Regions from separate parts of the Homo sapiens genome. Here region 2 is linked to region 1. Evidence: fine-mapped expression QTL. A gene starts in region 1. The other region holds a variant in brackets. All regions are shown on one strand. Distances are from middle to middle. Region 1 holds the start of SLC41A2 (solute carrier family 41 member 2). Region 2 overlaps SLC41A2 (solute carrier family 41 member 2).

What was found. PIP is the estimated chance that this variant, and not a neighbour inherited with it, causes the effect. A credible set is the group of variants that fine-mapping cannot tell apart.
Region 2: its variant is the best candidate, but not a certain one, in a credible set for the expression of SLC41A2 in adrenal gland (GTEx, PIP 0.81).

The regions. Positions count from the first base shown.
Region 1 is chr12:104,955,594-104,960,927 of GRCh38, forward strand. SLC41A2 (solute carrier family 41 member 2) reads right to left here and starts at 2,697. Exons shown (of 11, transcript NM_001352171.3): 1 at 2,495-2,697. RefSeq lists silencers at 2,086-2,415, 2,606-2,875.
Region 2 is chr12:104,806,488-104,811,810 of GRCh38, forward strand. All of the region lies in intron 10 of SLC41A2 (solute carrier family 41 member 2), which reads right to left. Among named protein-coding and RNA genes, the nearest start is that of SLC41A2, 150 kb to the right of the region's middle. The variant C/T (reference allele first, on the strand shown) is at 2,305.

The DNA of each region.
Region 1 (5,334 bases):
ATTCCATGGTCCCTTTACCTATCACAATGGTCCTGAATAGACTTTTTTTTACCACATTTTAACAAGTATCATCGAATAATCTTTTTCTTTAACAACAATCATATTAGATCAGTGGAAAATTGAGTTTGAATTCCTGGGAGGTAACATCAGGTCTTTTTAGTGGTTTTTTTTTTTTTGGCCATGAAAGACCTGATGCTGAATTTGTGTGCGCTCGGAAATTAACCATGAAATAAGCACAGCAGCATTCATTTAGCTGTAAGTGGCTCTTAACTTTAGTGCCATCAAAAATATTTATTTACCACCCACACATGAACATAATTGTAATAAAAACTACACTGCACAAACTTAAGAAAACAAGATTCTCCACTTTACTGAGAAGTTAAACATAAATTTTTGAGTGATTTGTGCTTGCCATTTATTGTTAGTTTGTTCAGCTGGCCACTAATATAAATTTTTTGTAATTAAAGTGATAACTGGGATTTTCAAATTGAGCATAGAATATATGAAAATACCAATTAAGGGTGGTCTCTCTTGACTCCAGTCAGGAATATGCCTTCTGTAGCTTTGCTCAAAATACCAGGGCAGTAAATGTAAAGGGGTCAGTAAGATGTCCAGAATGAACAGGTAGGGTATTCTTAAAGAATGAAGTGGCACTTATTCAACCTTTACCCAAGAATAAGCATTAAGTTTTTCGGTATCAGATTGGTTGGATTTTTTCAAGTCAGTGCCAGTATCCAAACCTATTAACAGAAATTTTTTTCCATAAATGAACAATAAAACTCAATAAAAAGCTAAGCAACCCAGACTGGCCGTGGTGGCTTATGCCTGTAATCCCAGCACTTTGGGAAGCCGAGGTGGGCAGATCACTTGAATTCAGGAGTTGGAGACCAACCTGGCCAACATGGTGAAACCACGTCTCTACTAAAAATACAAAAATTAGCCGGGCATAGTGGTGTGTGCCTGTAGTCCCAGCTACTTGGGAGGCTGAGGCAGGAGAATCGCTTGAACCCCGGAGGTGGAGGTTGCAGTGAGCCAAGATTGTGCCACTGCACTCCAGCCTGGGTGACAGACTGAGAGTCAGTCTCCAAATAAATAAATAAATAAATAAATAAAAATAAAAAGCCAAGCAACCCAATTAAAATATGGGTAAAAGATATGAACATTTTCTCCAAAGAAAATATATGAATGGCCAATAAGCACATGAAAAGATGCTCAGCATCCCCAATCATTAGAGAAATGCAAATCAAAACCACAAAGAGATACCATTCCACACTCACTACGATGGCTATCATAAAAAATAACCAGTAAAAAAGTAACAAGCCTTGGGGAAGATGTGAAGAAATCGGAACCCTCATACACTGCTTAGTGGGAAAGTAAAATGGTACAGCTGCTTTGCTTGGCAGTTCCTCAAAAAGTGAAACACGGAGCAATTGCCCTCCTAGGTATATACCCAAGAGCACTGAAAACACATGTCCACAAAAACGTGTAAACAAATGTGCATAGCAGCATTACACACAATGGCCAAAAACTGGAAACAACCCAAATGTACATCAACTGATGAATAAACAAATGTGGTACACTGATACAACAATATTAATATGCTATAAAAAGTAAAGTACTGATACATACTACATGAGTGAAACTTGAAAACATTACAGTATGTCTTTCGACGCCAGACACAAAAAGCCACATATTGTACGCTTCCATTTATATGAGATTTCCACAACAGGCAAACCCATATAAACAGAAAGTAGATTAGTGGTGGCTAGTGGGGTGGGGTCAAGGGGAAATGAGGAGTGATTACTAAGAGAGACAGGGTTTCTTTTGGGGATGATGATCTGGATAGTGGTCATATTTGGAAAACTCTGTGAATATATTAAAAGCCACACTTTAGAAGAATGAGTTTTATGGCATGTGATGTATATCTCAATTTAAAAATTGTCACTACAAAAAAAAGATGACATATATACGTAATATACACATCAATGTATATCGGTAACACATAGATATGTGTCATCTCTCTCTGTAAATGAGCATTTGGGCTTTTAAATTTGAGATATGCTCCGTGTATATAAAGAGAAGAATGAAAGAAAAGGGTGACGGGGCACTCGCGGAGCCCTGAACAGGCATCTGGGGTGTGCCCGAGCCAGCCTCGCAGCATCTCCATCCCAGCTCACCTTCAGCCATCACTCATACACCACCCGCCGCCTGTCCCTGCCTTGGGCGCCCGGGACCGCTTGTCCGCGGTGGCCGCGGAACAGCTTCCCTCAGCCCGAGGTGGGGCAGGCGCGGGGGCCTGGGCTCGGGCGCTGCCCGGCGGCCCGGAGAGGCGTCCGCAGGGGGCACGGCTGCTCGGGCGGGGCCGCTCCCTCTGCTCCCCGCGCCCCCGCCGCCGGGTCCCGAGCCCAGGCCTCTCGGCCCCACCTCCCTCCCGCACCTGATGCGCCCGAACGCGGCGCCGCGGCCGAAGCCGAGACTTCCCCTCCATGGTCACCTGTTCCGGAGCGCGGCGGCGGCAGCGGCCGGTGTGAGAAGGGTCCCCGTCTCCTCAGACCAGACCGAGACACCAGGGGCGGGGGATGGAAGGGGCATTCACCTGGTGCCCGGCACCGGTGGTGGCGGGGAGGACAGCGGCTCCCAGCCCACAGCTCCTTCCTGCTCCCGCGCCTCCTCGCGCGGCTGCGGCCCCAAGCTGACAGCCCGGCCGTCGGCGCCCGCGGCCCCCTGACTCCCCGCCGCCCCGCCCCCGCGCGGCAGCCCCGCGCAAGCGCAGCCGCGCCGCCGCCGGGGAAGCCCGGGCCTTGGTGATGTGGCCCGCGGGGCGGCGACCCGGAGCGACAGCACCGCCCCGCCCGGACCCCGGCCGCGCCCTGGCAGACAGCTGTCGGGAACGGGGGCGCTGGATGACGGCAAGGGGGCAGTTTTCTGGGGAGCCTGCCCAGGAGAGAAGGGCTGTGGCCTCCTTCGGCATCCCTCTTCCCCACCAGCCCACGCACGCCCACTTCACCGCCTGCTCCAAGGTCCGAACCCCCGAATCCATGACTCATGATTTCTCTTCTCAGACCAGCGGCCTCTTTTTGGCTGAGGTCATGTTTCTTGCAGACTGGAGTTAAAACCGAACCACGTGTCTTTCGGCCCAGCAGCGCATAGTGTGGGCGGTGCAGGAGCCGAGACGGGCAGGAACCACCGCAGGAGGGGGTGAGGTTTAGGGCAGCCCCATAGCACCCTCCCCGTGCCAGGCAGGTGTAGGCGCCAAGCGCATGGGGCGCTGAAGAGTTGGCTGGGGTGCCAGGCTTTTCAAGTTTCCCCACACTTGCTTTTAAACCTAGATCAAACTGATCCAAAGTCTGCATGTAAATCCGAGAGCTCATTTATTTTATTTACAAAACTATTGAGCATCTACTGTGTATGATTCAGGGAATGAGACACACCCCAGGGATACTCCAGTGAACAAAAGAAAGGTGTTGGTCCGAAGACAGTTATTTTAAAAATTACACAGCTAATGCCATAATGCCAGGATTGGTGGCTCATGCGTGTAACCTCAACACTTCGGGAGGACCAGGCGAGAGGATCGCTTGAGGCCAGGAATTTGAGACCAGCCTGGGCAAACACAGCGAGACCTGGAGTGGCTAGGAGACTGAGGTGGGAGGATCGCCTGAGCCCAGGAGTTCAAGGCTGCAGCGGGCTATGATCGCATCACTGCACTCCAGTCTGGGCCACAAAATGAGACCTTGTCTCTAAAACAACAACTCAAAATTACACAGCTAATGATACTCTTTTCCTCAAATCAAAGCTTCTACCAATTCCAAGCCACACCAGTGATTTAGTAGCAGCTTTTCTGGTGCTGAAGGACACCAGCATACATTTATCCATGTTCTTTTTTTTTTTCCTTATGCTTTGCGATCAGACTTTGAGCTTTAACCTTAACCTTCAGGGTGAAGGGTGCTTCGGTATCACTCTTGGCCATCTGCAGTCATGCTTTTTATAATGACTCATCCTGGTGTTCCTCACCACCTAAAAATGAAAGTATAATTGCAAGGAATATGGAAAAGCAGTGTTTTGACTGCATTTCCAGCTGGTTTTTGTTCTGGTTGTTTTTTGAATTACAGATCATTAGAAAGTAGCTGCTCTTGAAAGTTTGGCAGAAGTTCCACCCAATATGTGTTCCTCCCCTGAGTGTGTAGTCTTTCAAGATTTCTACACAAAGCATATACAGAAGCCAGCCTGTCTTGGTTTTGAAAATTCTTCCACCATTTTTTTCTGAGAGAGCTGGTGGTTTCTACCGTCCTTCAGAGCATTACATGGCATGTGGCAGGCAACCTTCTACTTACATTCTTCATTCAGTACCGCAAAGTAGTGTGTACTTTGGAGATATGTTAAGCTTCAAGTTGGAATCCAAATTTAAATCAAATTTCAGCCCTGAAAATAACTCACATTGGAATCGGGCGAGGAAATGCCCCCTTGTAAAAAACTGGGTCCTAATGGGTGCAGACAACAACAATCCCATTTCTACTTCATCTCCCGTCTGACAGCTGGCAACTTCAAATGTGAAGCAAGTGGCTTGGACTTGAGGCTGTGTGGTGATGCTGTTGTGATTGCTGGAAAAAAGCCTGAGAGTTATGAGAGTGTATAACAAAGGAGCGTGTCTGTGCTAGGGGGTAAGAAAGATCTCCTGGAGGAAGTGACATTTAATCTCAGCCTTGAAGAATAAGGAGGAGTTAGGGCAGGCAACATAGAGAAGGGGGTGGGGTGGGCAGTGCATTTAGCTGTGGAAACTGCAGGTTTGAAGGCCCTTTGGTAGGAAGAGGCTCTGTCTGTGAAGGCTTTGGGAAAAGGCCACTGTGCTTAGACTGAGAGAGCTACCTGGGAGGGAGAGGTGGGCGGGCCCTTGAGGGTCAGGTTAAGGACTTTGGATTTAATCCTAAAGACAAAAGAAGCCAATGAAGAGTTGAAAAGGTCCTATCTGGACATGAAAAATTGCATTTGTAAAAGATGATCCTGGATGCAGTGGCTCACACCTGTAATCCCAGCACATTGGGAGGCTGAGGTGGGAGGATCACTAGAGGCCAGGAGTTTGAGACCAGCCTGGGCAACATTGCAAGACCCCCATCTCTACAAAAATAAAATAAAATTAGCCAGGCTTGGTGGCACGCACCTGACTGAGCCCAGGAGCTCGAGGCTGCAGTGAGCTATGATCGTGCCTCTGCATTCCAGCTTGGGCAGCAGAGTGTGAGACATTGTCTCTTAAAAAAAAAAAAAAAAAAAAAAAAAAGAGATTATTCCGGCTGCAGAGTGGAGAATTAATAAGAAGGGTGCAACAGAGGATGTGTGACA
Region 2 (5,323 bases), 150 kb before region 1:
AAGTCTTTGTTATTGTGACTAGTGCTGCAATAAACATACATGTGCATGTGTCTTTACAGCAGCATGATTTATAATCCTTTGGGTATATACCCAGTAATGGGATGGCTGGGTCAAATGGTATTTCTAGTTCTAGATCCCTGAGGAATCGCCACACTGACTTCCACAATGGTTGAACTAGTTTACAGTCCCACCAACAGTGTAAAAGTGTTCCTATTTCTCCACATCCTCTCCAGGACCTGTTGTTTCCTGACTTTTTAATGATTGCCATTCTAACTGGTGTGAGATGTTATCTCATTGTGGTTTTGAATTGCATTTCTCTGATGGCCAGTGATGATGAGCATTTTTTCATGTGTCTTTTGGCTGCATAAATGTCTTCTTTTGAGAAGTGTCTGTTCATATCCTTTGCCCACTTGTTGATGGGGTTGTTTGTTTTTTTCTTGTAAACTTGTTTGAGTTCATTGTAAATTCTGGTTATTAGCCCTTTGTCAGATGAGTAGATTGCAAAAATTTTCTCCCATTCTGTAGGTTGCTTGTTCACTCTGATGGTAGTTTCTTTTGCTGTGCAGAAGCTCTTTAGTTTAATTAGATCCCATTTGTCAATTTTGGCTTTTGTTGCCATTGCTTTTGGTGTTTTAGACGTGAAGTCCTTGCCCATGCCAATGTCCTGAATGGTATTGCCTAGGTTTTCTTCTAGGGTTTTTATGGTTTTAGGTCTAACATTTAAGTCTTTAATCCATCTCGAATTAATTTTTGTATAAGGTGTAAGGAAGGGATCCAGTTTCAGCCTTCTACATATGGCTAGCCAGTTTTCCCAGCACCATTTATTAAATAGGGAATCCTTTCCCCATTTCTTGTTTTTGTCAGGTTTGTCAAAGATCAGATAGTTGTAGATATGTGGCATTATTTCTGAGGGCTCTGTTCTGTTCCATTGGTCTATATCTCTGTTTTGGTACAGTACCATGCTGTTTTGGTTACTGTAGCCTTGTAGTATAGTTTGAAGTCAGGTAGTGTGATGCCTCCAGCTTTGTTCTTTTGGTTTAGGATTGACTTGGCAATGCTGGCTCTTTTTTGGTTCCATATGAACTTTAAAGTAGTTTTTTCCAATTCTGTGAAGAAAGTCATTGGTAGCTTGATGGGGATGGCACTGAATCTATAAATTACCTTGGGCAGTATGGCCATTTTCATGATATTGATTCTTCCTGCCCATGAGCATGGAATGTTCTTCTATTTGTTTGTATCCTCTTTTATTTCATTGAGCAGTGGCTTGTAGTTCTCCTTGAAGAGGTCCTTCACGTCCCTTATAAGTTGGATTCCTAGGTATTTTATTCTCTTTGAAGCAATTGTGAATGGGAGTTCACTCATGATTTGGCTCTCTGTTTGTCTGTTATTGGTGTATAAGAATGCTTGTGATTTTTGCACATTGATTTTGTATCCTGAGACTTTTCTGAAGTTGCTTATCAGCTTAAGGAGATTTTGGGCTGAGACGATGGGGTTTTCTAGATATACAATCATGTCATCTGCAAACAGGGACAATTTGACTTCCTCTTTTCCTTAATTAAATACCCTTTATTTCCTTCTCCTGCCTGATTGCCCTGGCCAGAACTTCCAACACTATGTTGAATAGGAGTGGTGAGAGAGGACATCCCTGTCTTGTGCCAGTTTTCAAAGGGAATGCTTCCAGTTTTTGCCCATTCAGTATGATATTGGCTGTGGGTTTGTCATAGATAGCTCTTATTATTTTGAGATATGTCCCATCAATACCTAATTTATTGAGAGTTTTTAGCAGGAAGCATTGTTGAATTTTGTCAAAGGCCTTTTCTGCATCTATTGAGATAATCATGTGGTTTTTGTCGTTGGTTCTGTTTATATGCTGGATTATGTTTATTGATTTGTGTATGTTGAACCAGCCTTGCATCCCAGGGATGAAGCCCACTTGATCATGGTGGATAAGCTTTTTGATGTGCTGCTGGATTCGGTTTGCCAGTATTTTACTGAGGATTTTTGCATCGATGTTCATTAGGGATATTGGTCTAAAATTCTCTTTTTTTGTTGTGTCTCTGCCCAGCTTTGGTATCAGGATGATGCTGGCCTCATAAAATGAGTTAGGGAGGATTCCCTCTTTTTCTATTGATTGGAATAGTTTCAGAAGGAATGGTACCAGCTCCTCCTTGTACCTCTGGTGGAATTCGGCTGTGAATCCATCTGGTCCTGGACTTTTTTTGGTTGGTAAGCTATTGATTATTGCCTCAATTTCAGAGCCTGTTATTGGTCTATTCAGAGATTCAACTTCTTCCTGGTTTAGTC[C/T]TGGGAGGGTGTATGTGTCAAGGAATTTATCCATTTCTTCTAGATTTTCTAGTTTATTTGCGTAGAGGTGTTTATAGTATTCTCTGATGGTAGTTCATATTTCTGTGGGATTTTTAAATTTTCAAACCCCTGAAGCAGCAAAATAAATTTGGGACTAGAAAGGATAATGTTCATGGTTTTGGACAAGTTGGCAAGTATAGCACAGTGGTTAAAAGCACTTCTTTACAGCCCTTCTCTATTGTCTACTAGCTGACTGAAGGCAAGTTACTCAACCTTTCTGACTCTATATATCCAAATGAACATTAAAATGGTACTTACCTTGTAAGAATGTTCTGAGGATTAAATAATATACTAAATAATTCAGTGCCTGGCACACAATAAACTTTCAATAAATGTCTGTTATTAGTCTATTTTAACAGGATTATTCTTATTACTATTTGTGGCCCCTGGTATGTGCAGGAGGAAGCCCACCCCAGGTCCACGGTCTAGGCCAAGAGACCTTTCACTAACCTGGCAAGTAGGCCGTGGGTGTGAGGCATTTGCCTTGGGACCCAAACTGCTGTGTGCTATCATTTTAGCTCTAACACCTTTACCAGGAAGGAGAGTGGCTTGTCCAAACGTAGGAAGACATGTACCTATTCCAAAGGCATGAATTTTACATGCCTTTGGACATCTGTCAGAGAGAGGTTGTACTTTAAGCCCTATTGTCTTTTCCATGTGGTCAATTCTTCATTAGTGTTTCACTGGTAGAGACTGTTTTGGAATCATATAAAGTTTTGCTAGGACAATGTGTTTTGGGTATGGAGGAAGCATGAAATATTAGAAAGAATCCTGGAGTGGGAAGTTGTAAAATCTGGATTTGATTTTCAGTTCTGCCTTTGGGTAAATTTCTTACCACTCTGAGCCTAGTATTCTCATTTGAAGAAAATATGGGGCCTAATATCTGCCAAACTTACTTCGAAATAATAAGAGCCTTGGTTTGGGGGATGAAAGGAAAGGCAAAAAGGCAGCATGATGTCAAGTTCTATCACTAAAAGCATAGTGCACAGACTGAGAGAAAGAGAGTCATCCCATGGGACCCCCCCAGTGAGCCAGGCCACATCTAGGCTCTGTTTTGGATGCCCTATTTTCAGAGAAACTGGTTCACACCTGCGTCTTCAGTACCTAGCAAAGTGACTAACTTAAAAAGTAGACAACATCTGATTGACGGAATGCAAATCAGCTTGAGACAGTGTCATATAGGAGATTCCTATGAGAATAAGAATTGTTTGTCCTGGGCAAGGAGGGTAGGAGATGTGAACTTAAGACAAAGATTATCATGTCAGCAGACGCTAGGTATATAATATGTTGCTTCAGAGAGTAGAGTGTTAGGTTAAGGAAGAAAAGACCAAAAGCAGAACTTAAAAAAAATTTGGCTATCTATAAATAGAACAAGTTATGCAGTAAACTCAAAATTACTGAAGTATATGGAGGTAAATTTACCTTCTGTATGGAGGTAAATTTGCTGATTGAATAAGTAATGTATACAGGAGGAAACAATAGCTTTTAAAAGAATGAGGGTAGCTAATTTCTCTGGGATTAGCAAGAAAAATAAATGAATAAATTTATATTACATATTATAATATTACATGTTTACATATTAACAATGTGTTAAATACATACTTATATACACAGATTTATATATTATATGATACATACACCATTTAGTAATTTATTGTATAATATTTGCCCTGAATGATTTTTCTAGAGTAAGGTTGGCAAACTACAGCCCATGGGCCAAATTCAGTCTGCCACCTATTTTTGTAAATAACGTTTTATTGGAACGCAACTCAACCCATTGTTTACTTATTGCCTATTTAGCCGATTATTCCTTGCCACATTCTCAGGAAGTAGGTAGGTTTACTATTCCTAATGTTCATTTGGAGAAATTGAGTCGGAGAGGTTAAGTGGCTATGTAGTTGTCACAGAGAGCATATGGTCCACTAATCCTCTGACATATAAAAAAAGCTAAGGCAAAGTCCAAGAAACCTGCCCACGATCACACAGCTTGCAGGTGGAGTCAGGCTCAAATTCACAGAGTCCAACACTAAAGCCCATGCTCTCAACCATCACTACAGTACCTTGTTTTAGTAAAAATAGAACTTTACATTGATGAGAGCGTAAACTGGTACAACTACTTTGGAGAACAATTTGGTAATATCTATTAAATGTGAAAATGTGTATCTCCTTAGTTCAGCAATCCTACATAGAAATAATGATTTTTTTTTCCTGTGCCACTGGGGAAAAATAAAATTGTTCATGGCCAAAGGATACTAGCTCAGGGGCTCTGCTGACTCTAGGTCTTCCTGTTGCTACCCTAAGGACTGAGAAGACCAGTATCTTGGTGTACTTATGGAAACCATACAGAGAAATTCTTATACAAGCATACTGAGAGATGTGCAAGAATATTCACCACGTCTGTTGTAAGAGCAAAAAATTGTATCTATTGACACAGAATGGCTAAATTCACTGTTAAGTCACACAATTGAACACTATATAGAAGCAAAAATAAATGAAAATGAACTATATAAATCAACATGAATATATCTCAAAAGCACAAGACTATGCATATCATTTTAATAAAGTGTATAAGTATAAAACTATGTTGTTTATAGATATATACATTTGTAGCAATAGTATAATAAATAGTTTAGTATAATGGCAAGAATAGATGCCAATTTAGAATGCTGATAACTGTTAGGGAGGGATGAAATGAGCACAAGAAGGGATAAACAGGAGTTACCAACCATATATATGATGCATTTTTATTTATTTTGAAATATTTGCTTCGGATCATTGATAAAGCTGAGTGGTAAATACATTGTTATCTTATTTCCTATTACTTCCTGTATGTTTATATTTCATAATTTTAAAAAATGTAAACCATTGTGTTAATGGTAACTCACTGACCAGGGCCGCATGAGCTACAACTTAGAATATCTACTGAGAGGGACACATGAGAAAAGAAGTCAGTATGTCC